Homo sapiens: one gene and its partners. The protein of the gene in region 4 purifies or fractionates together with the protein of the main gene of each other region. This does not show direct contact. Each region holds a gene or a part of one and is shown on either strand. Other genes may lie near its edges. The genes, in order: GPN3, POLR3B, URI1 and POLR3K.

Region 1 (9,403 bases), on a different chromosome or scaffold from region 4:
ACAAATAGGCTTCTCAGAACCATGTTACTTATAAGTATTATCTGCTTTATATGCACTACTCACCAGAACCTTTGGAATTCTGGTAACAAGAGTATCCAGCTGATCTGTTGAAAAAATAAAGCATATAAATAATATGTAATAATTACAATGTTACAAGCACTGAACAACATATTTCAATTTTTTTTTTTTTTTTTTTTTTTTTTTTTGAGACAGGGTCTCACTTTGTCACCCAGGCTGGAGTGCAGTGGCATGATCTCAGGTCATTGGAACCTCTGCCTCCCAGTTTCAAGTGATTCTCCCACCTCAGCCTCCCAGGTAGCTGGGACTAGCGCTGCTACACCCAGCTAATTTTTGTATTTTTAGTACAGACGGTTTCACCATATTGGCCAGGCTGGTCTCAAACTCCTGACCTCAGATGATCTGCCTGCCTCAGCCTCCCAAAGTGATGGGATTAAAGGTGTGAGCCACTGCACCCAACCAACATATTTCAAATTTTAAAAAAGGATAGTGTTGCATATTATTTTTACTTTTCATGTTTCCATCAGAAATAATGTCTTACAAATTTTTTCCTATAATTCTGGTTAAATCCTAATGGCTCCAAGATTTTTTTCTTTCCTTTTTTAGAGATGGGGTCTCCCTCCTTCACCCAGGCTAGAGTGCAGTGTCGTGATCATAGCCCACCGCAGCCTCAAAATCCTGGGCTCAAACGATCCTCAGCCACCAAGTAGCCAGGACCACCAAAACGCCTGGCTAATTTTTGTACAGATGTGAGCCACCATGCCTATCCTGGGTCTTAATTTTATAGCTTCCTAATCTCATTCCTACAGTGAGCTCAATAAAGTAGTTGGGGCTCCTGGGCTATCCATGTGATTATCTTGCTGTCTTTATTTTTAATGAAGTGATTTGGGTATTGAAAAGACTGTTCTTTTTTTTTTTTCTTTTTTCTTTTTTGAGGTAGAGTCTTGCTCTGTTGCCCAGGCTGGAGTGCAATGGCGTGATCTCCGTTCACTGCAACCTCCGCCTTCCAGGTCCAAGCAATTCTCCCACTTCAGCCTCCCGGTAGCTGGGATTACAGGTGCCCGCCACCACGCCCGGCTAATTTTTCCATCTTTAGTACAGACAAGGTTTCGCCATGTTGGCCAGGCCGGTCTCAAACTCCTGACCTCAACTGATTCGCCCGCCTCAGCCTCCCAAAGTGCTGGGATTACAGGTGTGAGCCACCACGCCATGCCGAAAGACTGTTCTTTGAATAGTAATTAAGGTGTGCTAGAACTAATAAGTTGGTCTGTAATGTTTCTAATTTCGTACAAATTCTTTTTCTTTTCTAAACTTAAGACAAAACAACTGATCCTCATCCTGCAATTTATTCAATGACCAAGAGTTCATGGGCCAGGCGCCAAGTTTATAAAGTTTTTGTTATGAACTTTTCACCGCCGCTTCCTTTGCTATTTTATTCCAAGCCACCATATCGTTTTCTTGTATTCCAACTTCTTAATTCTACGCTTGCTCCTTCTAGTTTATTCTCCAACTAGCAACCAGCGTGATCCTTTTTAAGTAAAGTAAGATCACATCACTTCTCTGCTGGCAACCCTCCTGTGTCTTCCTTTCTCAAAGGTTGACTTTATAAGGTATGAGGGAGTTTTGAAGGAGTGATAGAGCTGCTCTGTATCTTTAGTGTGGCAGTGCTTACATAGCCATGTGCATTTGTCAAAACCCATCATATTATACATGAAAAAGTAAGACTTTAATTTGTGTAAATTATGCCTCAATAAACCTGACTTTAAAGAAAAAAAGTGCTGGGCACGGTAGCTCCCGCCTGTAATCCAGCACTCTGGGAGGCCGAGGCGGGTGGATCACGAGGTCAGGAAATCGAGACCATCCTGGCTAACATGGTGAAACCCCGTTCTCTACTAAAAATGCAAAAACTTAGCCAGGCGTAGTGGCACGTGCCTGTAGTCCCAGCTACTCAGGAGGCAGGAGAATCGCTTGAACCTGGGAGGCGGAGGTTGCAGTGAGCCAAGATCACACCACTGCACTCCAGCCTGGGTGACAGAGCGAGACTCCATCTCAAAAAAAAAGAAGAAAAAAAGTAAGGAGTTCCGGAGTTCCCATTAGTTAATAATGGGATTTTTGGCAGATCACTTCCCCTTTCAGATTAGTAAATATGACCGGAATTGATGATTTTTAAGACCCCTGCCAGTGCCAACATTGTATCATGTAGCATAATAAACCTGATTCTAGTTTGAAAATTTTATTTTGTATTTCTGGGAATATAAGCTTTTCATAAATTAGTCTTGGTTTGTGTTTTTTAATGGGGTTCCTTAAACCAAACTGAAGGGCATACTGTCTTTTTTTTTAATTGTAGTTTTAAGAGTTTGGATAAACTAAAGGAAGCATGGAGATGAACGACAGGCGGAGATAAAAGGAAAGGACAAACAACCTCTTTGTGCCTGTTTTGTCATCCATAAAGTGGGGATCATAATAGAACCTTCCAGGATTACAGGCTCATGCCCATCTCTACTAAAAATACAAAAATTAGCCAGGTACGTGGTGGCGCACACCTGTAGTCCCAGCTACTTGGGAGGCTGAGGCAGGAGAATTGCTTGAACACAGGAGGCGGAGGTTGCAGTTAGCTGAGATCGTGACACTGCACTCCAGCCTGGGTGACAGAGGGAGACTCTGTCTCAATAAAAAAAAAAAAAAAAATTCACGTATCTCCTGATACACCAGGATCCTGCAGTCGGCCAAGGACTGTGAAGAACAGAAAAGAAACCCAAGACTCCATCCCATCTTTAAGAAGTCTTCAGTAGCACCAGAGACAAAAAGGACGGCCATGCGGGCGGATCACGAGGTCAGGAGATCGAGACCATCCTGGCTAACACGGTGAAGCCCCGTCTCTACTAAAAATACAAAAAAGTAGCCGGGCGTGGTGGCAGGCGCTTGTAATCCCAGCTACTCCAGAGGCTGAGGGAGGAGAATGGCGTGAACCCGGGAGGCGGAGCTTGCAGTGAGCTGAGATGGCACCACTGCACTCCAGCCTGGGCAACAGAACGAGACTCTGTCTCAAAAAAAAAAAAACAAAAAGGATGGCCATGGGTGCAACAGGGGCCCTGACTGCGGGTTGTACTGAACGGCAAACATATCGCAGTTCTTGCTTTTAGGGAATAAAGTAGGGAGAGGAAGAGGAGGTAGAGTCTCCAGCAGTGACTTCAACAGCTCGCTGTCTTCACTATCTAGGAAATAGGTGTAAAAACCTGCTCAAAACGAAATAGATTTGTGAAAAAAGGAACTTCAGTGTGAAGAAAATGTCAAGATCAAGGCACCTCGGATATTCAGTCATTGGTCTCATTGGCGATTAGAAATCCTCGTTTGAGGTCGGGCGCAATGGTTCACCCCGTAATCCCAGCAATTTGGGAGGCCGAGGCGGGCGGCTCACTTGAGGTCAGGGGTTCGACACAAGCCTAGCCAACATGGTGAAACCACCTCTCTACTAAAAATACAAAAATTAGCCGGGCGTGGTGGCAGGCGCCTGTAATCCCAGCTACTCGGGAGGCTGAGGCAGGAGAATCACTTGAACCTGGGAGGCTGAGGTTGCAGTGAGCTGAGATCGCACCACCGCATTCCAGCCTAGGCAACAGAGCGAGACTGTCTCGCTCTCAAAAAACAAGAAAGAAAAGAAAAAAAAAGAAAAAGAAATCCCCGTTTGACAGGAAGGTGGCTCATGTCACTAGAGGGAAGGAACTGGTTTATGGGCCTGGATGCCCCCAGTTGAACCGGGGGACATCTTCCTCCTCTGTCCCTCCCGCCTCGCCTTTCGGTGGACACACAGTCCTGTGCCAGACAGCAAACGTCCCAGCAGGGCTCGCAGCGCCCCCTCGGGGCAGAGAGATGCACGCGGGCGACTGTCGCAGTCACCTCGTGGCCACTGCACCAAACGCTCCTCCGAAGCTTCCCTCAGAGACCCTCCCTCAACCGCGAGGCAGTCCTCCCCTCTGCCCTCTGTCCACAACAAAACTGCTCCCCGCCTCTCACTTGAGGGCACCGGGGCCAGCCCCCGAGACGAGAGGTCGGCCGCAGCCCTCCTCCACGGGGCTCACGACCCGGGGGCCTCACGACCCGGGGGCCCCATGCTGCCACCCTTACCCCGGGGCCCCCAACCTCACCCGCCGCCGCCACCCTCGGTCCCGGCCACAGCGGGCGGCTCTGCAGAAGAGCTACGCTCCGTCCAGTCGGACCCCGGACCCTGGCCGGGCATCTCCGCGGCGCCGAGACCGCGAGCCGTGTGCGGGAGCAGCTGTCCCAGCATCCCTCCCCCGACAGCACGCGTGCGTCAGGCTGCTGGTATTCCGGAGAGGCGGCTCGGATGCTGGCTTCTCGCCCCTCCGAAGCCGTTCGGACACTGCCCGAACAGCTTCGGGAGAGCGGGGCGGGCAGATCCGCGACCCCGGAGTTACGGTGGGGGAGGGGCAGGAGCGCTGCGGTCGCTGAGCGTTTGCACGTTTGCACCTCTCTGTGGAAGCAGTGCGTCACAGGAGGGAAATATACATGCTCCCCAAAACAAGAGGTGCCTTCCACTTCAGTATTCCAGATCCTCAGCACATTTGCAAATCGCGAGGGTCACCATACAGGTCAAACGTCTGCACGCAAACCACGGACCGAAGCACGTGGCGCAAGGATGCGGAGCTTTATCTGTTGTCCGTTATTACTCAGGTATCCAAGCTTAGACAGCATCCCAACGGCCGATTTCCATCAACTACTTTTGCGCACGCGCAAATCCTCTCCCTCGCCCCTCCCCTTTTTTCTCAGGACGCGTTTCTCACGGGATTTGGCCCGCGGGCTGCCCCGTAGTAGGAGGTGTGGTAGAACTGGAGGCGTAGAAAGAATGTGGATTGCGATTGGTTCGCACTTCACTTTCCCGGAGCTCAGTGGGCGTCGCGCGAAGGCTAAGGGAGTGTGGCGGGCGGCTCCGGGAGCCAACATGCCTCGGTATGCGCAGCTGGTCATGGGCCCCGCGGGCAGCGGGAAGGTGAGGATCTGCGGGGACAAGGAGAGAAAAGTAGGAGTTCGTGGAAGGCGGGAGATTGGGTCCTGAGGGAGTGAGCCGGCGGGTGTGTGTACTGGGAACCCTGAGACCCCACGCAACTCATTTCTGCTGTCTGGCTTCACGTTCTTTTTTGTTGTTGTTTTGAAAGGGAAATAATGGTAGTTGTTAATATTTATTGTATACTTAAGCCCCAGGCAGCAGATGAAACGCCTCGCTTATTTCTACAACAACCCTGTGAGAGAGATCTCATTTTTCTCATTTTACAGAAAACGAGATACAGAAAGGTTAATTAAGTTCTTTGCCCCGCAAAAAAATATAAATCCAGTTTTGTCTCAACTCCAGAATCCGGCCCTGTCTCGCTCCCAGGAGGGTAAAGTGGGGTCTCATTAATTACTGTTTCTCAGAACTTGGGACATGGACTTTTGGTATTTAAGGTGCTTTTAGGTGGTAGGTGGTACATGGACCCCACATTAAGGAGCATCAGATAATGTGTTAGGGAAATTGTTCCCTTTTCATTTCTCTTTCAGTTCTCAACTTCGCATTTAGGAGAAGTTGTGCTCGGTGCTAGTGTGTATCTTCAGCACTTCTTTAATCCCCAGGTCTTTTCAGAGAGCAGTTCTTAGTCTCAGAGCTTTTAATAGGCACCTGTATTTAGCTAAAAATAGAACATTTAAAGATTTTATATAATTTTATGTCTAATTTCACGTTATGTCAAATATAAGTGGTTTTCAGTTTACAGTAGGGATAAAATTTTTTCTTGTAAACAAATATTAAGGGAATGTTAGGAACATTCAAATACAGTGAGAATGGTGAAGATATGGATCAAATAACATATGTGTGGGAAACATAGCCAGGCGTGGTGGCTCACGTCTGTAATCCTATCACTTTGGGAGATGGAGGTGGACGGATCGCCTGAGCCCAGGAGTTTGGGACCAGCCTTGGCAACACGGCGAAACTCTGTCTCTACAAAAAAATGCAAAAATTAGCCAGGCCTGGTGGCAGGTACCTCTAGTCCCAGCTTCTCGGGAAGCTGAAGTGGGAGGATTACCTGAACCCAGGAGGTTGAGGCTGTGGTGAGTGGTGATCGTGCCACTGCACTCCAGCCTGGGTGACAGAGGTACTGTCGCAAAAAAAAAAAAGAAGAAGTGTGGAAACACTAGAGTCTGTGGAGGTGTTGTGTGGCCTCAGTCTTTAACAAACACATTGTTCTAAGCTGTTGACTTATTCTGGGTAAAAACATGTACATGTAACTAAGATACCTATGGCCTTTAACTTACCCAGAGTCTGTAGTCTTTTGGGGAAGACAAATAGATGACCTGTCAATTAAGATACAGTGTGATGTGGCCAGGTGTGGTGGCTTAAGCCTGTAATCCTCGCACTTTGGGAGGCTGAGGCCAGCAGATCACTTGAGCCCAGGAGTTCAGGGTCAGCCTGGGCACCATGGTGAAGCCCTGTCTCTACCAAAAATACAAAAATTAGCTGGGCATGGTGGCGAGAGCCTATAGTCCCACCTACTCGGGGGGCTAAGGCTGGAGAATCGCTTGAGCCTGGGTCAAAGCTGCAGTGAGCTATGATGGTGCCACTGCACTCCAGCCTGGGTGACAGTGAGACCCTTTGCAAAAAAAAAAAAGATACAGTGTGTGATGTATGGAGAGGGCATTCCAGACAGAGACAACAGTATGTGTAAAGGCACTGAGAGGACAGCATGATGGATGTTTTTTCTATAGTCTATTTTAATTTTTGGGCTGATTGTATTAAACAAGTATCTTTATAAGCTTTTGATGCTTACTATCAGAAACATTCCTTGAGTACGTTCTTTATCCCAGGCACTGTTTTGGGCCCTGGGGGTTGTATGGGGAAAAAAACATGCACACACAAAATCCGTGCCCTTGTGGAGCTTATCTTTAAACATAATAAGTCAATTAGAAACAATTATCAAGTATTTATTATGTACTAGGTATTGCGCTAGTCCCTGTGCTTGGGAAACTGAATAAGACACATCTCTGCCTTTAAACAGAGTATGACACAGACAAGTAGCCTAGAGACTTTTTTTTTTTTTTGAGCCAGGAGTCTTGTTCTGTCATCCAGGCTAGAGTGCAGTGGTGTGATCTCAGCTCACTGCGACCTCTGCCTCCCGGGTTCAAGCGATTCTCCTGCCTCAGCCTCCTGAGTATCTGAGATTACAGGCATACGCCACCACGCCCAGCTAATTTTTGTATTTTTAGTAGAGACGAGGTTTCACCATGTCGGCCAGGCTGGTCTCCAACTCCTGACCTCAGGTGATCCGTCGACCTCAGCCTCCCAAAGTACTGGGATTACAGGTGTGAGCCACTGCACCCAGCCCGAGATGTTAACATAGTACGGTAACAACTACATAATGGATAAAGAATTATCTAAACCAAAAGTTACAAACTGATAGCCACCTCCAGACTATTTATTGATCTTGGCGTTCTTTCATCTTGGAATGCTCTTCCCCTTAGGTTGGCAAACTCCTTCTCATATACTCATATCTCCCCTACTCAGAGACATCATCCCTGACCATCCTACCTAAAGCTTTGTTTGCACTGTACAAGTCCTGGTAGAGACACTGTGTTAGGTGTTACACTATGTAACCAGAACTCTTCCCTTTAAATACCGCTTGTCACATTTAGAACAGTAAGGAGCCTTAGTGATTATGGAGGACATCCCAGTTAGAGACACGAAAATTGAAGGGCAGAGTGGAGAAGTAAATTCCCCAGAGGTACCCATGAGTCTAAGTCAGGTTTGAATCTGCAGCCCAGTCAGGTATCTTTTTCCCTTGTTGTCAGTCAGCCTCTTGGTTGATGAAGGCATAGTTTTGACCTTAGTGGATAGTATTCCAGAGTATGGAAGGTAGCACTACACTACCTGTTGCTTTAACCTCTCATGCCTTGTGACATTACAGAGCACCTACTGTGCCACCATGGTCCAGCACTGTGAAGCCCTCAACCGGTCTGTCCAAGTTGTAAACCTGGATCCAGCAGCAGAACACTTCAACTACTCCGTGATGGCTGGTAAGTCCTGAGCAAAGGCTCCCCCCACCTTCAGGAACAGTAAGGGCTGGGGAGGCAGTGAGTACTAGCTGCTTAGCACTGATACTTATTATAGTCTGGATCCCTGGTGTTATGGTAAATAGCATGAGCTTGTCATTTGGTCACATCTGTTCATGGTGATATGTGTGACAGTATCCTTTCTTGGTCTTTGATGTAAGATTTAAAAGTAAATGGGGCCGGGCGCGGAGGCTCATGCCTGTAATTCCAGCACTTTGGGAGGCCGAGGCGGGTGGATCACGAGGTCAGGAATTTGAGACCAGCCTGACCAACATGGTGAAACCCTGTCTCTACTAAAAACACAAAAAAATCAGCTGGGTGTGGTGGCATGTGACTGTAATCCCAGCTACTCAGGAGGCTGAGAAAGGAGAATCGCTTGAACCCAGGAGACAGAGGTTGCAGTGAGCCGAGATTGCGCCACTGCACTCCAGCCTGGGCAACAGAGCGAGACTCCATCTCAAAAAAAAAAAAAAAAAAAGTAAATGGACACTTCCCTCAGCACCCTTTCATTCTGTCCCTTTTGTCCTTAGTCCTGCTGTAGTGAATCATGTGGTATATTGCTGATCACTATAAGTCAGGAGCCTGGGTTTGTTTTTTTTAATTCTTTCAATTTGTTCATTCAAGTGTCTGTTGAACACCTGTTTTACGCCAGACACCGGAGTTATAGCAGAGAATAATACAGACATTATCCCTGCCCACACCAACCCTTTAGGAAATAGGCAATAAACAACATGATGAACATGTTACAGAATGTGATGACTGCAGACAGGCTCATGAGAAGTACTCATTGAGGTTGCTTTAGCTAGAATTGTCAGGGAGAATGGTGACTCTGAGGAGGGGATCTTTGAGCCTAGACCTGAAGGATGGTAATATGCTCCTCAGGCTGAGGAAAGTCCTTCCAAAATGAGGGAACATTTAGATCAATAAATATGCCAAGCTGGGTGCAGGGACATGTGCCTGTAGTCCCAGCTACTTGGGAGGCTGATGTGGGAGGATCACTTGAGCCCAGGAGTTCAAGTCCAGCCTGGGCAACATTGCAAGATCCATCTCTGAAAAATAAAATAAATAAATAAATAGCCTGGAGGTGAGAAAGGATTTGGTATTCTCCAGGAAAGCTAAGATGTCAGTGAGCTAAAGCGTAATGTCTGAAAGAAAGAAGTGGGTAGGGGCTAACAGGACATGATAAGATGGGATTTTATCCTGTTGTCAGTGGGGTGCCACTAGAGGGTTTTAAGAAGAGGAAAGGATTGACATTTGATACACGTTTTGGGGTTTTTTTTTTTTTTTGAGA
Region 2 (5,472 bases), on a different chromosome or scaffold from region 4:
AGGGAAAAAAGTGCTTTGAGGGTGGTCTGTAAAAGGTTACTCTATCATTACTGGAAAAGAAAATCTAATTATTTATAAACAACTCTTTAAATAAAGTTTAAATAAACTCTTTAAATAAAAAATAACTATTAAAGTTATTTGTAAGTTAATTGTTTTTAACTTACAAATAAATAAAACCGTAGTGGGACTAGCTTACCAAATCTGGCTGCTTTTTTTTTTTTTTTTTCCCTAGAGATGGGGTCTTGCTGTGTTGCCCAGGATGGTCTCAAACTCGTAGGCTGAAATGACCTTCTCGCCTCAGCCTCCTGAGTAGCTGGAACTACAAGTGCCTGCTACCATGCCTGGTGTCTGGCTGCTTTTCATTAAAGTATTTCTCAGAGTCAAATAGCTATTCAAATGTGGCAGTTGCTAATTTTTGAGATATCAATCTGATAGAATTTTTTCCTTTAAGGATGTCTCGACTTGAAAACCCATACTTTCTAGATCTTGTAAACTTAGAATTTCCTAGACACTTAGAAAGGTGACTCCCTCAGAAAGATTAGACTGGCTTGGAATGGTTTCCTGAGAAGGATGTTCATTTATAAAAGATACAACCATTCAAGGGCATCTGAATTTTTTTAAAAACTATCACTTTTGGTGACTGAAAAATATATAATCACAGATAAAACCAGAACAAAGCCCTGCATGTGAGAATGCCTGGTCCCAAGGCCCTTGCTGTCCCCCTTGTTAGCAGTGAGGCTCTGGGGAGTCACTTAGCTACTCAGGGCGTCAGTTTCTTCATGTATAAAGGGCATACTCACACTTGTGAAGTGTTTCCAAATCTTCAGAGCACTGTTGGCTGCTTTGCCCTGGGCACTCCCTCAGCACTGCCGAGGTTAATCCTCAGCACTGACTGCAGGGCAGTGCTCCATGACCAGCACATATATCTTGGCCTCCTCCACTGGACTATGTCCTCGGTCAGGCAGAGGCCCTGTCCTGTTCTTTTATCCTTAGTCCAGTGCCTTGTACGTGGCAGGTACTGAATGATGAACGATGAAGTCCTCCTGCCAGCACCCAGCACACTGCCTTTAACTCTTCCAGCCTGACCCTCTGAGTGTTCACTGAAATGGTGTGTCCCACACTGCAGGGCAAATGGATTTGGGAAGTGGATTTGCTACACGATGTGAGATAATCAGGATCACCCTAGAAAACTCCTTAAAAAGCCCACAAAGTACAGTATGATTGTACATTTAATCCAGTACGGCAATCCTTATGTACCATCAGTTTTGAGAACTATAAGCTAGGTTAAAAAAAGGAATTGGCATAGCAAAGATCTGAACATTCAAACTCCTTTTTGAAATACCTGTTGAAATACATATTGAGGCCAGGCGCAGTGGCTTACACTTGAGATCCCCGCACTTTGGGAGGCCGAGGCGGGCGGATCACTTGAGCTCAGGAGTTCAAGACCAGCCTGGGCAACATCGAAACTCCATCTCTACCAAAAATACAAAAATTAGCTGGGTGTGGTGGCATGCGCCTGTAGTCCCAACAACTCAGGAGGCTGAGGTGGGAGGATAGCCTGAGCCCGGGAGATTGAGGCTGCGGTGAGCCGTGATCTTGCCACTGCACTCCAGCCTTGGTGACAGAGTGAGAGACCCTGTCTCAAAAGAAAAAAAAAAGAAAAAAGAATACCTATTGAGTCCCTGCCATGAGGGCTGAGGAAGGCCTGCTCACCTGCAGTGTCTTTCATTCTGCTTTCACTGATACCGCTATGACTGTTATACCCACGTGTGTTAGAAATTTTTTATTGTGAAGAAAAAGAAGAAGTGAGGTTGAGTTCTCAAGTCAATGACTAGCCTCGGTCCCTGGAACATCCCTCTTTTGAAACCCAGTACACATTAGCTTGGGATCTTTAAGGGCTTTGAAAAAGTCCTGTGGAATGTTTAACTTGGTTACCCCGTTTCTCAACCTTAGTTTGACATAGGAGCTTGATTCTTGTTGGTATATAATACCTATTAATATTCTGTTGAACATCTTCAGTGTGACATGCTGGGAATGAAGGCTTAGGCCATTACTCAAAGTGTTTCTGACTCTGATTTTACAAACAATCCTTAACACAAATGTTTATCTGGCTTTGGGGCAGCAGTTGAGAACAAATTAGAAATGAGTAAGGAAGTCTGTCAGATTAAAAATGAAATGGACAGCTAGCATCCTGGCAGGCATGGAAGGGACAGAGCATGACAAAGCAGCCACGGGGTTAGATTCAGATATTTAACGAATAGTATTGCATGGTACAATCATGCAGGTTTAAAATAATAGCAATTGAGTCCATAGGAGAAGACGACATTCTTGCTTGACAAGGTAGGAACAAATTCATTATATTTCACCAAGACTAAAATTACAAAGTTTGGGTGTGTAAAGGCAAGATTTAATTGTTGGGAAAATTTATCCGAGCCAGCCACCACGACAAAAGCCAGGCTGACCAAATCAAATGGATTCTTTACATCCTCCAAGTTTCAGAAGAATCTTGAATATGGTTAGCCAGAAGATATGGTAAATTTGACCCCAAACATTTGCTTGAAGGAGTAAGGTCTTCTAATGAGTGAATGTCAAGAGATCAGCACATAAGTAATAGCTTATTTATCCTTTAGGTCACATCCATCTGTGAATCAAGCAGCCTTGCAGTCCACATGGTCAGCATCTCTCCCATGGCTCGAGGCTCAATGATCAAGGTTGTTTAGCCAGTCTTAGAGTATATAAAAAGCCTCTCCATTTTTTTTTGGTTGTTTTAGAGAGAGAATACGCAAGGGAATTCTTCACAGGAGGAGACGTAGTCCTAAATCCCTTCTGCTTTCCGTTGCATTGGATGTATCACTTGTTCTCTTTAATAATCATTTTTTCCATCCTCATTCATTGTACTTGGACAGTTTTAACCTGGGGATGATGTTCATAGACTGTAGTTCCTGGAAGAGCAGCTTGCAGGCATACGGAATACGGAGGGAAGACACGTGGCAGGATGACTTGCAGTAATGGCACCTGAAACGCAAGTCAGCAAGCGTTAGACAGACAGCAACTCGGAAACAAAGGCCTCCACGTAGGAAGTGAGAATGGTCTCTATAAAGTTCTATTATCATTCTATCAAATTATCTTTCTATTCCTAAGTGTTCAGTTGCACTATCATATAAGTACGTATGTGCCCAGAAAAAAAGAAACATCCAAGGAAGCAAAAGAAAAGAGGAAACAAACACCATTCCCTCCAGTGTTTAAAGCATGCAAGTTGAGTCAGTTGTTACCACACATCCAGCCCTTTCTCCTTAAAATGTAAAACATTTGCCAATATACTGTTTTGAAAGAGCTCCAGAAATCTGAACCATTGGGAAATTTACTCAGATTTAAATTTTTTTCATTGTTTAAAGAGTTTTAAACCAATTCAATCAATCTCCATGTATTTGATAAGCATCAACTATACTAGCAGTATATTATTCTAGGCAAGGCGCTCAACAATTATAACTTGATTTCTGTCACTGAGATACGTAAAGTCTGATGGAAAAGACAAGACTTTTGAATAGGACAGTGGTATTCAATCAAATGGTAACTTGTCTAGTGCTCTTCAGGCTTGGTGATTTCTATGAGTGTTGGAGGTACTATACTTACAACATGTTGTCCCTTGTGCAAAACTAAGAAATGTGTGTATGTGTGCATGTGCACATATGTTCCCACTTAACCCTAGCAACAACAGTCCATGTTCCTAACCACTTTGCCTCATATTCCAATTAGGACTTTAATTTCTCTTCTTTCCGGAAGAGCTGGTAAACTGAACTTAGTTCTTAATCAATGGCTACAACTGTAGAAGGGTCCCTGGGGAGAAAGTGAATTATTCTTTCAGGTTTCAGACCAAAATACAACCTTACCCTACACCTCAAGGGTCTGCAGCAGCTAGGACAGTAGGTATCCAGTACAAATCCTGACTCTTAACAGGTAGAAAACTAGGTCCTCACAGTTAACGAGGAGGAAAATGAGTCCAAGAAGAATAGCAACTGAGGCTTGGAAGATCGGGTGCTGACCAGGAATTGAAGGGGGATTCCTTAGTGAACAAAGGATTGGCCATTCTGGAGGGCAGTAAGACAGTGTGTGTAAAAACTGTAAATGTGCATATTCTTTGATTTTGTAATCCCAAAAGTGGCAAAGGTATGTGCACAAGAATGCTGACAGCCACACTATTTATAACAGCATAAGGTGAGAATATGCAAATGTCCACTGGGACATTTAGATAGAAGAAGACTGTGAAGCCATTAGACCTGCTGTTGTGGACACACATTTATTGAAATGGAAGGTGTATAGGACAAACTGTGAGGTGAAAAAAGCAGTTTGTTGATCAGCATGGTCCCAAGGGGGCCCTCAAACAAGTTTTGTAAGTGTATGGAGCCCCCAAAATCATACGTAAAATTTTAAGTTTTTTGTGTGTATATTTGTATTTTTCTGCCCTTATCAGAATCTTGAAAGAGTCACCAAAATGTTAATAGTGGTCATCTCTGGGTGGTGGGAATTAATGTGACTCACTTTATATTTGTGGTAACTTTTGAATGTTTTACAATGAGCAGGGATCATTTTTGCAATCAGTAAAATAAAGCTTGTATTATTTTAGAAAAGAAAAGCAAGAACTGAGGCTGAGAATGTGCACGTGGTGGTGGTAACTATGCAGACAGAGTTTCCTGAGGAGGAGAATGGGAGAAGACTAACCCTCACAAATGCACAGTTGATGTTATGATGAGGGGACGCAGGGTGCTTAACCTGTATTTGATCCGTTAACAGTACAAATACAAACTTGGTGAGTTACTTTTTCTTAAAAGATTATCTAAAGACCTATTTAATGCATTCGAGTTCAAAAATTACGTTTTTAATGTGCTTGGGTTGATGTAATTTATCTAGGAATCATGTTCATGCTTTCATTAAATTGGGGAAATGCATTTAACGGGGGTACCTTTCGCTTCTTCTCCTGACTAGTACATTACCCAATGACTCCGATCCAAGCTAATCTATTTTAAATTTCCATATGTACTGATTCATATTCCAGAAAGCCCTTTAATCTTCTCTATTATTAAATACTTCTCCATCATTTAAAATGTTCCAACGTGCATGTGTGTGTATAAAACCTTACCTTACCTTGTATCTGAACAATTTGCAAAGGTAGAAACTTGACGTGAACAACAATAAAATGAACGGCTTTTTTAGGGCAAAGGTAGCAAAAAGGGGAGGCTGTGGCTTCACACGAGAAATGACTGTCCAGTGAAACATCCTCTATGAGCTAATTACCTTAATAGGGATTTTCTTCTTCCTGAAGTCTTCCTTTTGGACCTCTCTTTTGTGACTTATGCCCTTAGTGTCTTCTGTAGAACAACAGTCGTGCTGTAAACATCCCCATAGCAATGCCTCACTAATGTGCAAATCCCTGACAAAAGGCCAGTTTCAAGGTTCCGAACTGCTCTAATTACC
Region 3 (9,521 bases), on a different chromosome or scaffold from region 4:
TCAGGTATAAATTATAAAACCATGTGAATAAAAGAGCTTTACGTAATTTTTTTTTTTTTTTTGAGACAAAATTTCGCTTTGTTGCCCAGGCTGGAGTGCAGTGGCACAATCTCAGCTCACTGCAACCTCCACCTCCTGGGTTCAAGTGATTCTCCTGTCTCAGCCTCCCAAGTAGCTGGGACTACAGGCACACACCACCACGCCCGGCTAATTTTTGTATTTTTAGTAGAGACGAGGTTTTACCACGTTGGTCGGGCTGGTCTCGGACTCCTGACCTCAGGTGATCCACCTGCCTTGTCCTCCCAAAGTGCTGGGATTACAGGCATGAGCCCCTGCGCCCGGCCCAGAATTTATTGTAACAGGAAATATGTACTTTGAAAATTATTTTAGATAAATATTGATCCCAAAAGTCATCTATGTTTGGTCACTTTCCAAAACCATATTTAACTACTAGAAAGTGATTTACAAAAACATGTTTCTCTACTCTAGAGCTCTATTCTATTGTAGTATAAGTATTCCCATTAATATTTTAAGTTATAACTAATTATAAAGATTTTTTTCACTGAAATATGAAAATCAATGTGAACAAACTTCAACAGGCTATGGATTCATTTCATAACATCAGAGCTACTTCAGTATATAAAGAGAGGCTTCGTCTTCAGTAAGGTCTTTAAGAAAAAAGTATGCCCATTCTCTTTCGCTAATATACATGACAAAAATAATGCAGCAAAGCCAAAAGATTTATCATTGCCAGAAATTACATACAGGCCTAACAATAAGATTCTGATTAGTGTCACAAAAGATCAAAATATATATCAATTATAAACTTATAGGAGTTGATTTGCAATTAGAGTCTCCAAATATAGTTCCCAGAATTTCACTGAGTAAATGAGTTCTCTAGTACTCATTCATGTATAAGTGAAATCAAGTTCAGCTTTAGAAAACTCAGCTGTTTTCTGTTTAGTATGACCTTATTTATAAAAAAGGATCTTCCCATCATTTATTTTCAAATACACATTTAACTAAAAGGTTAAAAAGCAGGTAGGGCGGATATTATACTCTCAATCTAAATACGTATTACAGAAATAACAACAGATTATAAACTGAACCTAATTTTAAAATATAACTAAGCTAGAACCCAAGCTAGCTCATCCAACTGCAAAATGTGTAGTGTGTGTTGTGTGTGTGTATGTAGGCTTCTATACACCTACAGATAATAGCACGGATAAACAAAACTCAAGAGCTGCCCTAATAAAGGGATGCAGAGAACTCAAACAACTGAAAAAGGATAAGGGTGCTGTTTTAGGTAGCACCTTTTCACACCTGGTCTCCTCTATCAAATGAAAATATGGTTTTTTTTCCAAACCAAAAAGCATTTTTAAGAATTGTCTACTTATGTAAACAGGTATTTCTCTTAGTTCACTAAGGAGAAAACACATTATTTCTGTGTACTAAAGTATTAAGTGCAAAAATAAGTCTATAATAGCAACTAAAAAAAAATTATAAGGTATAAAATGACTCCAATTTTTATGTCTTCCCAACTTCTAACTACAAAATCACATAATGACTTTGAAACTTTGTAACTTCTGAAAACATGCCAATGTAGGTGACATTTCCAACCCGGATGCTCCATTCTCCAGCTCATTCTCAAATGTTGGTTCTACTCAAACTACCTACAATTCAACAGAATCACAAACAGCCTGGATTCATAGATCACGGAAGGTACTTTTGGTAAGAAACAGCCCTTCAGCTTGGCAATCTGTGAATGGATACATATACAACAAAGAAACATCATTTAAAATGGGTACCTACGTTCTTTCCGGTGCTCAACTAAACCTACAGCCTGCTTTGCTGAGCACTTTGCAAACCAGTTGTCCCCCAGTAAAACAGTGACTTCATTAGTATGGACAAGTTTTCCTGGCATGAAGGCAAAAGGGCCAAATGGTACCTATTGTTTAAAAAAAAAGAAAAAAGGGAAAAAACATAAAACACTGAAAAGTACATTTTATAAAACACTTCGCATTAAAAGCCTTACATAACTGAATTTTTTTATTTATACATTGGGAAAAATAAAATGCCAGCTTCACAGAAATTCAACACTATATTAAAATTTTACTAGGAAAATCTAAAGAAAATTGCTTTATGTTCATAAATCAATGTTAAAACAGGAAAATAAATCCACACCATATTTACATATAGCTCTTAAAGAAAGTAGTACTGTCTCGGCATGTTTATACTTTTCATTCACTTGCAAATCTAAGTGAAAGCAACTAGTAGTGAAACATTGTCAATGCAAAATACTTTTGATAAAGAAAACTAAAAATTATTTTCAATAAAGTAGACACTTTTGCAAAGCAGGAATTAGTAAACAAATAGCTTTAATGGATCTATCTAGCTATATATACAAAATACTTGGACTAGTATAAAAGAACAAAGTCTTCATAAGAAAGAACATTCATGCAATGAAAGGCTCTAATCCAGGGCTCATGAACAGATCACTATGTCGATGTGAAGATCATTAAAACAAAAATTAGCAGCACGTTTTTATATAAAAATCAATGTCCTAAGGTTTAATTCTGTGAATTACAAAACATTATGGCCTATTCCTGCTCTGGCTAACAAGAAACGACTTAGTACCATATTTCTGTCATAATTACATTTTTTATATAGTAAGTTTCCATTTGAAATATGTCCAATTTTGTGCTAATATTTATGTCATTTGTGTCACCATATATATTCTGAAAAAAAAAGGTAAATACCAACAATTACTACAATTACTGTGTTCTTATAAAGTAAAACAAAACAAATCTTCCTTGCTACATAGTTACCTTGGACACAGTCCATCAGCCTGACATTCTGTGAACCGACACATAGTTAATATGTTTACAAGAAACAACTATTACTTTAAAAGAAACACACCAAACATACCATTATATTATAAGACAATTTATCAGGCAAGGTGCTGAGTCTTTCTCGAAGGGCATTATAGTCATTATCTACCTTCTTCCTGTTGACAGAAAACACCAAATACACACATTATTAACGATTTTTCTTTTTTTTTTTTTTTTTTTTTTTTTTTTTTTTTTTTTTTTTTTTTTTTTTTTTTTTTTGAGACAGAGTGTCGCTCCGTCGCCCAGGCTAAAGTGCAGTGGCGTGATCTCGGCTCACTGCACCCTCCACCTCCCGGGTTCAAGCAATTCTCCTGCCTCAGCCTCCTGAGTAGCTGGGATTACAAGTGTGCGCCACCATGCAAGGCTAGTTTTTGTATTTTCAGTAGAGAGGAGGTTTCACCATGTTGGTCAGGCTGGTCTTGAACTCCTGACCTCATGATCCTCCCACTTCAGCCTCCTGAAGTGCTAGAGTTACAGGCGTGAGCCACTGCACCTGGCCTCACTCAAAAGCTTTATTAAATCTCTTCTTTCAGTCGTGTGTGGTGGCTCACGCCTGTAATCCCAGCAATTTGGGAGGCCCAGTAGGCCAGGTATCATAAAACAAGCTAATCAAAAACATAATTTTAGCAAATTCAAGATTAATGTGGTTTTATTTTTAGTTTTAAAATCCTGTTTTTATACAGTTTAGCAATGGCATTATTCTACCATACATTTATTGAAGAATTAAGACTCTTCAGGGACTCTGGCATTTAGAAGCAGAATACTCAAATTTTGAGAATTACTGTTTTTTAAGATACAAGACTATCTGGACCAAATAAAATGTGAAAATTAAGGGAGACAGTAAAAGAGGGCCTGATATTTGGAGAGAAGAAGGGACTCAAGATGAAAAAAGAAGAGATTTATTTATTTTAAGACAGAGTCTCTCTCTGTTGCCCAGGCTGGAGTGCAGTGGCACAATCTCAGCTCACTGCAACCTCCACCTCCTGGGTTCAAGTGATTCCCCTGCCTTAGCCTCCTGAGTAGCTGAGACTACAGACGCATGACACCACGCCCAGCTAATTTTTGTATCTTCCATAGAGATTAGGTTTCTTCGCCACGTTGGCCAGGCTGGTCTCGAACTCCTGGCTTCAAGCGATCCCCCCACCGCAGCCTCCCAAAGTGCTGGGATTACAGGCATGAGCCACCACACCCGGCCGAAAGAAGAGATTTAATAAAGCTTTTGAGTGAATAGATACTGGCTGTGAAGTTGAAATCATGAACATGAAATTTGATCAGATGCTTTAGTCCTCATCAGAAAACCTTAGGCTGAAAAATGCATCATCAGCTCTTCAATTATTCATAATAATGTGATTAAGGTAAGAGAGAATCAACTGGGGGTAGAAGAAATTAAGTAGAGATAATACAAAAGGCGTTTCAATTTGGCCTAGGAGTCTGTTTCTTGTTACATCAAACAGAGCTACCAAATAAGTAATTTCAAACAACCAAAAGGTATATGTAACTCTGTAGGGGCAGAGATGATCGTATTTCCATGCTATGGGCCTTACTCAGCTCTTAACACCTGCTGGAAATGAACAGCCCTTCTTTTTGAGTAATACCAGGCAGCAGCCTATGCCAAGATGCCCGTCAAACTTTCTCTGGAGACTGGGTTTCCAAAGGGTTCCCTGCTAAGATACAGGCTGCAAGCAAAACTACAGCACTGAATTTTTTTTAAGCAGAAGGATGTTGTCAGTTTTTAAAAATAACAGAAACAAAAATTCACCAACTCAGCAAGTAATTTAAAAGAACATGTAGACATTGTCAAATTGAAATCAGGATAAACTGCAATGTAGGTAACAACTCTCCAGATAATATAAATGACAAACATCACAGAATTGGTTTCAGCTTACTGCTTAGTTCCCTGAAGCAACAGTAGCATAATTAATAAAAAAAAATTAGCTCAGTCTTAAGATCTTAAGGAATTTCACATATATATTATTTTACATAACCTATAATAAATGTCACTTATCAGTATTTTTCTCTTACAGAAGACAAAGTAGAAGGAAGATGGAAAAACCACATAGCAAGAAGCCAGATCTCCTCTATCAAGATGAGGTAAGCAATGAGTTTAACCTAGCTAGGTCTTCTGACCTGCATTCCTTCATGAAAGCTTTCTCATTTTCTAGTGTGCAACTGCTTTATAACTTTCCCCAAAAAAAATCCTTTTCTATAAATAAATACGAAACATGTTTTATTCTTTTGTTTAAGGCAAAAATCCTCCTCCTGGAAAATTTTTATATGGATAAAATGGCAAAAAAACTTCATGCACAAGGCTATGTACCAGAAAGAACATGGCTTTGAAGTCAGACCAGAGAGTGAATCCCAAGCTCTACATGCAATTTACACAAATTCACCTTAGTCTTAGTAACTTCAATGGCAAAATTGGACTAATACTTATCTCACAGGTTCAACAGAATTAAATATAAAAGGTCTAACACACTGCCCAGCATGGAGCAACTACTATTTTGGTTCCAAAACTCAAAACTCATTTTTTTCATGAAGCATCAAAAAACATCAATTCCAAAACTTTCAAGAAAGACTATTACCTACAAGATTTCACTAACCAATTTGATACAAATAGTATAACTTGCTGAAAGACAGTACAGCTGAATGTAACCATTCAGGGGCTTTGGAAACAGGACTGGTGTGAGCAATCAATGGGAGAATGTCTCCATAGGACTGACTGGTACAGTGCCTAGACAGTCAACACTCACTATTAATAACATAACACTAACAGCTTATTTATGTTTCAGATAAGTAATTCTGCAAATGCTCAAGGACTAAATACACCAGCCTAGATATCTAAATATTTCTATGAATATTAAGAAGCTAGTATTAAAGTCACCATTCAATAAGTCTTATTTTGGTAACAATGCTTAGGAGAAAAAAAAACAACTTCCTCACAAAAAACATCTATTTTGTACATTAAAAGAACAGTACGTTCAAAAACAGGCAATACCAGAGATCAATGTCAATATTTCAAGTCAAATATAATCAGTTTTCAACTTATTAATAATTCTCTCTGGAATAAAAATGCGGACATACTGGAGAGCAGTTTAAGATTAGAGTTGCTATTTATAAATTTTGAATTATTTTCTAAAAATACAAAAGTAGAAGATCACTTAAAATGCAGCCCATGTAGAAATCCTTTATGAAGGGAGGCCAGGAGGAGTCAAGCAATGTCTCTGGAAGAAACTACAGCTTGAGGAACCCTCTCTCTCTAAAGGCTACATTCGTGGAAATGTTCAGGGCTTAGTCAAACAGTGATCTCCAAATAGTATCTCTATTATTTCAGGCTTAAATAATCCTGTTAAAGATCACAAAGCCTATGCAACAGAAAATGCAAAAGTTATGCTAAGAACTAATGCATTACTGAGGTTAAGTCTGGGGTCTTTATTTATAACAAAATTTGAACAGATTTTTTTTTCTATTTTAATAATTAGAAACGTAATTAATTTTTGGACACAGGAGTCATTACAGTAATCAAAAATGGTAATTGCTTAAAATAATTTTTCTTCAAATGGAAAACAAAACCCAGATAGAGTTAAGAAACACCTCTCCAGCCTACTTACTTAGAATAGCTAGACCTGCTTCTTTGGCTTCAACATAATGGATCCTTATAGATCAGGTTCCGCCTTCAACTCTTAATTTTAAATTTTTTTCCAATATCCTCATGCAACATTCCTTATACAAAACAAGAACTAAAAGCATAGGTATAAGGCATGTAAGAAACTTTAACCACTTCCTTCTGAATCTTGCTAATCATGTGCAATATGCCTTTTGAGAGTACCTTTTGTTTTAAGGAAATTAAAAAAAAAAAATAGGCAGCAGCGATGAAGACCATTAACACAACCACAAGTTAGCCCTTACCCTTAAAGGATTAAGATCAAGACAGAACCTATGGGAAACAGCTCATTTGCATAAAATTGTAGAAAGTAAGAGAGAAATCAAGTTAAATGAGGGATATGCTCAAGTATTTAGGGGTGAAATACACAGATGTCCACAACTTAATTTGAAATTCATCAGAAAAAAATGGATTAACGGATTAGGGTACAGACAGATAGGTGATCAAGATTCACTCTTCCATATGTTTGAAATTTGTCATAATAGAATATTTTTAAAGGGACGAGGAAATATGAAAGGGATCAACATTTTTAATCCTCTTAAAAGTGACTGACAAAAATAAAAATCTCTATTAAAAAAAAAAAGTCTACATCCTTTGAGGCCAGTGATAAAGACTCCAACCTTTAAATAATAAAAAAGGGAGATAAAATTTAAATCAGGTTGAAACAATAAGACTTTGCTAATTTTACTTTAAAGTAAGAAGTTAAAATAGACAGCAAATACTAACATTGAACTTTTTTTTTTTTTTTTTTTTTTGGAGATGGAGTCTCACTCTTTCACCCAGCCTGGAGTGCCGTGGCGTGATCTCGGCTCACTGCAACCTCCACCTCCCAGGTTCAAGCGATTCTCCTGCCTCAGCCTCCTGAGTAGCTGAGATTATAGGCACGCGCCACCGCACCCGGCTAATTTTTGTATTTTTAGTAGAGACGGGGTTTCACCATGTTGGTCAGGCTGGTCTCGAACCCTGACCTTGTGATCTACCCGCTTCGGCCTCCCAGAGTGCTGGGATTACAGGTGTGAGCCACCATGCCTGGCCCAGTTTTTTTTTTTTTTTTTTTTTTTTTTTAAGAAAAAAAATCTTCTATCACTCTCTTTTCCTCTACCTAACATCCTAAACAGACAAGCAGAAAATACTGTGAGATGCCTAACGGGGAAAGAGGAAAAAAATTTCTATATAAGTGTTAACATCTGAGTTAACCTGGGACAGAGTTAAATTTTTATTTTTTAATTTAAGAAACGATAAAAACGGAAGATTCTGGAATATATACAATATATAACCTTCTTTAGAAATAATTTTTAGTCCATCATACCCACCCTACAACTTCCCATTAAGCATCCAAAAAAGACTTGTTTCAATTGAATCCACCATTTACTGAGCAGCTCCTCTACAACAAGCCTATGGCATATGCTGCAGGGATCATCACTCACACATAGCATGCCTTTCTGATTGTTTGTTGATTGTTTTGCAATGCATCTTTGTCAAAGATCCACTAGCTTGAAGGATGCCTGGCTTTTCACCTCTAAAATCAAGAAAATAGAGGAATATTAAGTTTGGGCATGGATTCTATATAGATAAAGAGATGTCCTCCAGTTACTAAAGCAAGAAATAATGATTTTTTTCAAAGTATCCTTTTAAACAATCTAAACAAATTGATAAAAGTTACATTTTATTTAAAAATTCTTGAAAAAGGGATCTATACTGTTATGCTTTATGCAATTTGGTGGGAAAAGGAACACTCCTCATGGAAAATTTAAATGTACTTGAATTAAATCAATAGCATTACACTTTTTTTCTAAATGGTCATGGCAAAATATTCAGTAATTTCAATTGATATAAGTAACTGAAATGTACCACAAAATTCAGGCAGAATGGTGGTATATTCCTTTTTTATAACTCTATTATACCAAGGAATTTATGTCATCAGAAGATGCTGATGAAATAATCTATGTTCTTTATATTTTATGAGTCCATCAGAAAACTTTACTATTAGACATAGATACCAAGATTAACCCGCATATAAAAACATAATTTTTCAAGTCAATGAAACAAAATTATCTAAAGAGAGATGCAGCTAACATTCTACTAGATTTCTTCAATTTAACTTTTCAACAATGAGAAAACAGTGCAATGGATATATATATATAGTAAGCCTGGACAGAAAAATCTGTTCTACTGTTCTCTCTACAACAACCATACACATGTGTTTGAAGACTTGTCAGTTATCACAGGTGCCTGTTTCTTCACTCATTACTAATCTTTTGCTCTAAGAAAATGAGATGTGAATTCAAAGCAAAAAACCTTTAAAATTATGTAAAAACACATTCATCTACGTTTGAAAGAAATATCCTAAAGTGCCTAGTTAATTTTTACTGATGAGTTTATATGTAATTTTTGTTCTTTTTATTTTCCAAATTTTCTATAACTAATATAAATTCCTATTACAAATCAAAGGAAAGGACCTTTTAGAAAAGGTGTGATGAGTTTATAGCTGACTTAAGCTTTGAAAGTTTGTGCAAATTTCTACTTAAATCTTACCGTAATTCATAGGTTTTGCTACTTTACACTTTCTATATTTTCTTTCTAAAGCATATTTTAGAAAAAAGTAATTTTGTGGGTTTTCTTAATTACAGTAGCAATTAAAAAACCCTTTTAGGTCACTGATCCCTATGAGAAACTAGAAAAACTCTAGGCTCTTCCCTGAGAAAAGAACTCATATTTTACATATAGTTTCAGCAGAGGCCCAATCATAGATACCTCCGGGTTAAAGTTTCTCAAGAGGTTTTACAACAGTGAAAAATGGCAATCCTGGTTTTGAACCTACCAAATATTTAAAAACCTCAAAATTATCAACTGACTTAAAAATAAAAGAAAAATGTGAAAACCCTCACCAATTTGATCATGAGTTCAATATGAATTAGTAAAAAGTAAATTATAGGCATGCCTCCATTTTTCACAGCCTACATTTCTCT
Region 4 (7,223 bases):
CCGTTTAACCCTGAGGCTGCTGAAAATCAGCACATGGTGAATACGACATTTGTAAGGCAGGCCCAAGGAGATATCGGGCATAAATTACAGAAGTTGGAAGCTCCGCAGGCGTGAATGCTACTCAGCTTATTAAAGTGGCTACCAAGGTGTACATTAACGGAGATCAGGAGGCTGATCAGAGGCTTAAGAAAGGCTAATTTACTAGCAGCAGCGCTTACAGGAAGAGAAGCTAGCTTTGCAAGAAGGCATGGACGCGGGCGTGAATGCAGTCGTGGAAAAAGCTAATAAACTGACTTTAGAGACTAAATACCCTAAACCAAGCTACACTGCTCCTCATCAAGTCAGTGCCAAGAGGCCCCCTTCATTGCTGTGTGGACTTGGTAGATAAAGTGTTCTCAAGCCAGAGAGATGTACCAGATCGGCCCCTCGGGGACTCAGACATTGAATACTCTACTGATGGAAGCAATTTCATACTAAAGGGAGTCCACCAAGCTGGGTACGCAGTGGTGACTTCGGACTCAGTAGTAAAGGTGCAGTCTTTGCCTACAGAAACTTCTGCTTAGAAATCAGAGCTGATAGCTCTGACAAGAACTCCCTGGCTAGGAAAAGACCAAAAGACAAATATTTACAAAGATTCCAAATATGCTTCTGCCACTTTGCATGTTCATGAGGCTATTTACAAAAAAAAAAAAAAAAAAAAGCCTTTTAACTACTGAAAGTAAAAAAAAAAAAAAGCACAAGGAAGAAATTTTGCAGCTCTTAGATGCTGTATGAGCCCCAAAAGAGGTGGCCATGATGCCCTGCGAGAGGCACCGAAAAGCAAGAACACCAAAGGCTAAAAAAAATAGAAAGGCAAAAAGGCAAAGCAGGCTGCAGTGACAACTCCACCTTCTAAAGAGGAGGCCTCAGCTATGCCTCTCCTCCCGGAGATTCCCTCCCAGAGATCCCAAGCACCCCTGCAAATAAAAGGGCTTGGTTTGCCCAGAAAAATAAGAACTACATTGAAGGAGGACGGTAAAATTCTCCAATGGGAGGCCATACCTGAAATGGTGACCCCGATTTGTAGAACAGTTCCACCAAGGAACTCACATGGGAAAAAAAACAAACAGCACTAAAGACATTATTAAGGCATCATTTCTATGTGCCATGGCTCGCTGCTATTACTCAAGCCATTTGTAAACAAACAGTGTTTAACTTGTGTTCAGAACAATCCATAACAAGGGCCTGCTTGGCCCCCAGGAGTTCAGGAAACATGAGCCAGCCATGCCCTGTGAAAAGCTGCTTATGGACTTCGCCAAATTGCCCTGAAAGGGGGGCTATCAGTGCATGTGGGTGTTCATTTGCACCTTTTCAGGATAAGTCGAGGCCTTCTCCATCTGGACAGAGAAGGCACTAGAAGTGACTCAGGTGTTGTTAGGAGACGTTATTCCCAGATTTGGACTGCCTCTGAGATCAGACAATGGACCAACATTTGTGGCTGCAAGAGTTCAGGACTTAACTAGACTATTAAAAATAAAGTGGAAATTGCGTACATCCTACAGGCCACAGAGCTCAAGTACAGTGCACGAACCAGACACTCAAACAGCTGCTGAAAAAATTTTGTCAAGAAACTCATCTAAAATAAGATCGGGTCTCGCCCATGGTCCTCCTCCAAGTCAGGTACACCCCCACCAAACAAACTGGGTATTCGTCCCGTGAAATATTGTTCAGAAGGCTGCCCCCAATCATTAATCAAATTAGAGGGGATTTAAAAGAGTTAGGAGAGCTAACCCTTAGAAGACAGATGCACTCCTAAAGGAGTGACAATGCAAGAGATGCATGGCTAAGTATTAAAAAAAAAAAAAATGCCTATAAGTCTAACAGACCCAGTACACCCTTTCAAACCTAGGGTCTGTGTTTAGGTTAAAAAATAAAATCCAACCACTCTAGGACCCATATAGGATAGGCCCCATATTGTGATCAGGAACTGATCAACATGTTCAAACAATAAGAAAATAGTCATATTAAATGTAAAGATTGGTGGGACACAGTGGCTCACGCCTGTAATCCCAGCACTTTAGGAGGCCGAGGCAGACAGATTATCTGAGGTCAGGAGTTGGAGACCAGCCCGACCAACATGGAGAAACCCCATCTCTACTAAAAATGCAAAATTACCCAGGTGTGGTGGTGCATGCCTGTAGTCCCAGCTGCTTGGGAGGCTGAGACAGGAGAATCCCTTGAACCCGGAAGGCAGAGGTTGCAGTGAGCTGAATTCGTACCACTGCACTCCAGCCTGGGCGACAGAACAAGACTCTGTCTTAAATAAATAAATAAATAAATAAAATAAATAAATAAATAAATAGTATCTTATACATTTAAAGCAACCCGAGGAAGCAAATCAGGGGAGGTTCAAAAAAATGAATAAGGGAGTAAGAATAGGAATAAAGAAAGAAATTGAAATCCCGGTGATTAACATTTTCGTAGCCTGTTCAAATGTAAGTATGTAGTCTATTCTGGGATCACTGTGATTTGGGGTTTGCTTTCTACCTCTTAAGCTATTTAAAACACTGAGAAGGCAATATTCCAACTTTCATTTAAATGAAATATTCAGAATTTTGATTAAAATAAATAATAAATTACACAAGTTTACAAGTAACAGTTAAATATTTAGGGACATGTACTAAGTTTTACAAACAGTACAAATATTTAAGAGTGTTGATTGGGAGTAAGGGAATGTCAACTGCCAATAAAGTGGAAGATGAAAGAATAGGACTTTACACAGAGCATATTTAGTTATGGGTCTCTGTCTCCTCCCCACACAGAAAAACTCCCAGACATTCATGACTTCATCCACCCTGCCTGGCAGATAGGCCATATTTCCTGACCCCCTGGCTCTTCACCTCAAAAGGTTTATCTTTCCACCACACTAGCAAAGACCCTCAGGACACACAACTCATACTGCCAGCTAAGCATCTACCCCGAGGGACAAGGCAAGCACACACTAGGGCAGCTGGGCCATCCTGGCCCTAATCCCTCCAGCGGTGTCCACACTGAGCATTGCAGCACTTGTAGAAGGTGGTCATCGGCTCATCTGCAGAGCGGGTCTGAAGCTGCATGAAGTAAGCACGAGGATGTTCGCATTTGGGACACGACTCTGGCAATGAGAAAAAAGAAGTGACCACATTTAAAAAAAGATGCTACTCATGGCTGTCAAAAGTAGGTATTACTTAATATGTGGGAGGCCAAGGCGGGCGGATCACCTGAGGTCAGGAGTTCGAGACCATCCTGGCCAACATGGTGAAACCCCATCTCTACTAAAAATACAAAATTAGCCAGGCGTGGTGGCGGGCGCCTTTAATCCCAGCTACTTGGGAGGCTGAGGCAGGAGAATCGCTTGAACCCAGGAGGCAGAGATTGCAGTGAGCCAAGATCGTGCCACTGCACTCAAAAAAAAAAAAAAAAAAAAAAAGTAGGTATTACTATAATATCTTTTTTTTTTTTTTTTGAGATGGAATCTCGCAGTCACCCAGGCTGGAGTGCAGTGGGGCGATCTCAGCTCACTGCAACCTCTGCCTCCCGGGTTCATGTGATTCTCCTTGCCTCAGCCTCCCAAGTAGCTGGGATTACAGTTGCCCGCCACCACACCCGGCTAATTTTTTTGTATTTTTAGTAGAGACAGGTTTTCACTATGTTGGCCAGGCTGGTCTCGAACTCCTGACCTCATGATCCGCCCACCTCAACCTCCCAAAGTGCTGGGATTACAGGCATGAGCCACCGTGCCCAGACTACTTAATATCTTTAAAGATGGTAAAGAACCTCCCTGCTCATTTGATCCCCCTTGACAAGGGTAGATCTACAAACAGTGATGTCATTCCCACCACGCTGTAACACTAAGGGAATCTGGGAGACCTGTGACTCACACACTCTCCCCCTCCCCTCCCTGAGTCCCATGGTTCTTCTCAAATCCAGCTGAAGGCTGGTTGGAAACGTAACATGGAAGGTGACTGTTTTGGTCCATTTTGTGCTGCTGTAACAAAATGCCTAAGACTAAGTAATGGTTAGATGGTGGAAGAGTTTTGAAGTAAATGCTGGGAAAAGCCTGCATTGTCAAGAATTGAGCATTAAGGGCCGGGCGCGGTGGCTCACGCCTGTAATCCCAGGACTTTGGGAGGCCAAGGCAGGCGGATCACGAGGTCAGGAGATCGAGACCATCCTGGCTAACATGGTGAAACCCCGTCTCTACTAAAAACACAAAAAATTAGCCAGGCGTGGTGTCGGGTGCCTGCAGTCCCAGCTACTCGGGAGGCTGAGGCAAGAGAATTGCGTGAACCCGGGAGGCGGAGCTTGCAGTGAGCCGAGATCGCGCCACTGCACTCCAGCTTGGGCAACAGAGTGAGACTCCATCTCAAAAAAAAAAAAGAATTGAGCATTAAGGGCGATTCTGGTGTGGGCTGAAAAGAAGAGAAGAGGCCGGGTATGGTGGCTCTTGCCTGTAATCCCAGAACTTTGGGAGGCTGAGGCAGGTGGATCACGAGGTCGGGAGGTCAAGACCAGCCTAGCCAAGATGGTGAAACCCCGTCTCTACCAAAACTACAAAAATTAGCCGGGCGTGGTGGCAGGTGCCTGTAATCCCAGCTACTAGGGAGGCTGAGGCAGGAGAATCGCTTGAACCCGGGCAGCATAGGTTTGCAGTGAGCAGAGATCGTGCCACTACACTCCAGCCTGGGCAAAAGAGACTCCATCTCAAAAAAAAAGCCAGGCACAGTGGCTCAGGCCTGTAATCCCAGCACTTTGGGAGGCTGAGGCCAACAGATCACCTGAGGTCGGGAGTTCGTGACCAGCCTTATCAACATGGAGAAACCCCATCTCTACTAAAAATACAAAATTAGCTGGGCGTGGTGGCGCATGCCTGTAATCCCAGCTACTCATGAGGCCGAGGAAGGAGAATCACTTGAACCTGGGAAGTGGAGGTTGCAGTGAGCCGAGATCACACCATTGCACTCTTCAAAGCGATTTCACTTTGAGAAACTTATCCTACACCTGACAGAAATGGCTTCAAACACTCTATTTCTGACATTAGGTAAAAAGATTTTTTTTTTTTAGACAGTCTCACTCAGGCTGGAGTGGCATGGTCTCGGCTCACTGCAACCTCCGCCTCCTGGTTCAAGCAATTCTCCTGCCTCAGCCTCCTGAGTAGCTAGGACTACAGGCACGCGCCACTGAGCCTGGCTAATTTGTTTTTTTTTTTTTTTTGAGACGGAGTTTTGCTCCTGTTGCCTGGGCTAGAGTGCAATAGCACGATCTCAGCTCACTACAACCTCCGCCTCACAGGTTCAAGCGATTCTCCTGTCTCAGCCTCCCAAGTAGCTGGGATTACAGGCAGGCACCACCACGCTCAGCTACTTTTTGTATTTTTAGTGGAGACGGGGTTTCACCATGTTGGCCAGGATGGTCTCGATGTCTTGACCTCGTGATCCGCCCACATTGGCCTCCCAAAATGCTGGGATTATAGGTGTGAGCCACCGTGCCAGCTGCTAACTTTTTCACATAGCAGATTTGTATGTTCTTTTTTTTGACAGAGTTTCGTTCTTGTTGCCCAGGCTGGAGTGCAATGATGCAATCTTGGCTCACTGCAACCTCCACTTCCCGGGTTCAAGCGATTCTCCTGTCTCAGCCTCCCGAGTAGCTGGGATTACAGGTGCTGCCACCACGCCTGGCTAATTTTTTGTATTTTTAGCAGAAATGGGGTTTCACCGTGTTAGCCAGGCTGGTCTCGAACTCCTGACCTCAGGTGATCCGCCCGCCTCGGCCTCCCAAAGTGCTGAGATTGCAGGCGTGAGCCACCACACCCAGCCTATATGTTCTTTTATAGGGGGAAAACCACAGTACTAACCATCAGTTATCTCTCTCACCTCTCAATATAACTTACATTTACGTCTTCCCCTTTCCTCTCCTGGCCACATCTATGTCTACCAGACATGCAATAAACATGTATTTTACCCAATCTGCAGTTTAATGCTCACTGGTATTAACTTCTAAAAATCTATATTAGAAGCGTGTATTAGTCCGTTCTCACACTGCTATGAATACCTGAGACTGGGTAATTTATATAGACAAAAGGGGTTTTGTTTGTTTTGAGACAGAGTCTCACTCTTGTCACCGAGGCTAGAGTGCAGTAGTGTGATCTCGGCTCACTGCAACCTCTGCCTCCTGGGTTCAAGCAATTCTCGTACCTCAGCCTCCTGAGCAGTTGGGTCTACAGGCGAGCGCCACCACACCCGGCTAATTATTTTATCTTTAATAGAGACAGGGTTTCACCATGCGGGCCAGGCTGGTCTGGAACTCCTGACCTCAAGTGATCTGCCTACCTTGGCCTCCCAAACTGCTGGGATTTACAGGCGTGAGCCACGACACCCAGCCAAGAAAAGAGGTCTAATTTACTCACAGTTCTGCGTGGCTGGGGATGCCTCAGGAAACCTACAATCATGGCGAAAGGAACCTCTTCACAGAGCAGCAGGAGACAGAATGAGTGCGAGCAGGGGAAACGCAAACGCTTATAAAACGATCTGATCTTGTGAGAACTCACTCACTATCAGGAGAACAGCATGGGGGGAAACCGCTCCCATGATTCAATTACCTCCCACTGGGCCCCTCCCAGGACACCTGGGGATTACGGAAACTATAATTCAAGATGAGATTAGGGTGGAGACACAGCCAAACCATATCAAACAGAAAGAACATACTTTTTTCCTTAGACTCTTATTTTTATTAATCTACTCATCATTGCCATTATCAAAGCTATCACCTGTTGAGTGCCTCTTATATACCAAGCACGGTATAATTCACTTTATGCTCTCGCGGTCTACGAATATGGATTAGCCCCAGAGAAGTCAAGAGACCCAAGGAAGGTCCTACAACAATACAAGGTTGCCCTGAGAATCTGACCCGGGCCTGTATGACTCCAAGGCTGGCACAAATATTGCTTGTCTGACAGATTATTAAACAGTAACAAATACAAATAAATTATTCAAGAACCATTTTCTATTTTTAGAAACCTACATCATTTATATGACATCATAGACTCTGCCAAGCAGTGGCATCAACAGCCTCATAATTATCCACAGTTTAGCAACAGAAACAGTTTTCCCTCTTACCTGCAGTAGAGTCAACATTCTCCCAGGCAGCTGCTCCACCAAGCACATCATCCACTTCTTTCAGTTTTGGGTACTTCCGATTTGTTACCT

What was found.
Region 1: the proteins of POLR3K (region 4) and GPN3 purify together in Homo sapiens (affinity purification with mass spectrometry; 4 studies listed by BioGRID and IntAct, with this or other methods). This does not show direct contact.
Region 2: the proteins of POLR3K (region 4) and POLR3B purify together in Homo sapiens (affinity purification with mass spectrometry; 6 studies listed by BioGRID and IntAct, with this or other methods). This does not show direct contact.
Region 3: the proteins of POLR3K (region 4) and URI1 purify together in Homo sapiens (affinity purification with mass spectrometry; 3 studies listed by BioGRID and IntAct, with this or other methods). This does not show direct contact.

The regions. Positions count from the first base shown.
Region 1 is NC_000012.12:110,463,779-110,473,181, reverse strand, and holds the start of GPN3 (GPN-loop GTPase 3), read left to right. Parts: upstream 1-4,978; coding exon 4,979-5,026; coding exon of another isoform or gene 5,027-5,056; intron 5,057-7,967; coding exon 7,968-8,076; intron 8,077-9,403. Other genes in the region: protein FAM216A, read right to left, coding at 64-104, 4,164-4,306. UniProt on the Homo sapiens protein: Small GTPase required for proper localization of RNA polymerase II (RNAPII). May act at an RNAP assembly step prior to nuclear import.
Region 2 is NC_000012.12:106,506,963-106,512,434, reverse strand, and holds the end of POLR3B (DNA-directed RNA polymerase III subunit RPC2), read right to left. Parts: intron 4,808-5,472; exon of another isoform or gene 4,625-4,807; intron 3,016-4,624; coding exon 2,886-3,015; 3' UTR 2,237-2,885; downstream 1-2,236. UniProt on the Homo sapiens protein: Catalytic core component of RNA polymerase III (Pol III), a DNA-dependent RNA polymerase which synthesizes small non-coding RNAs using the four ribonucleoside triphosphates as substrates.
Region 3 is NC_000019.10:29,978,709-29,988,229, reverse strand, and holds part of URI1 (unconventional prefoldin RPB5 interactor 1), read right to left. Parts: intron 8,072-9,521; exon of another isoform or gene 7,980-8,071; intron 3,008-7,979; coding exon 2,929-3,007; intron 1,949-2,928; coding exon 1,813-1,948; intron 1-1,812. UniProt on the Homo sapiens protein: Involved in gene transcription regulation. Acts as a transcriptional repressor in concert with the corepressor UXT to regulate androgen receptor (AR) transcription.
Region 4 is NC_000016.10:44,425-51,647, forward strand, and holds the end of POLR3K (DNA-directed RNA polymerase III subunit RPC10), read right to left. Parts: intron 7,222-7,223; coding exon 7,134-7,221; intron 3,134-7,133; coding exon 3,006-3,133; 3' UTR 1,983-3,005; downstream 1-1,982. UniProt on the Homo sapiens protein: Core component of RNA polymerase III (Pol III) which synthesizes small non-coding RNAs using the four ribonucleoside triphosphates as substrates. Can mediate Pol I proofreading of the nascent RNA transcript.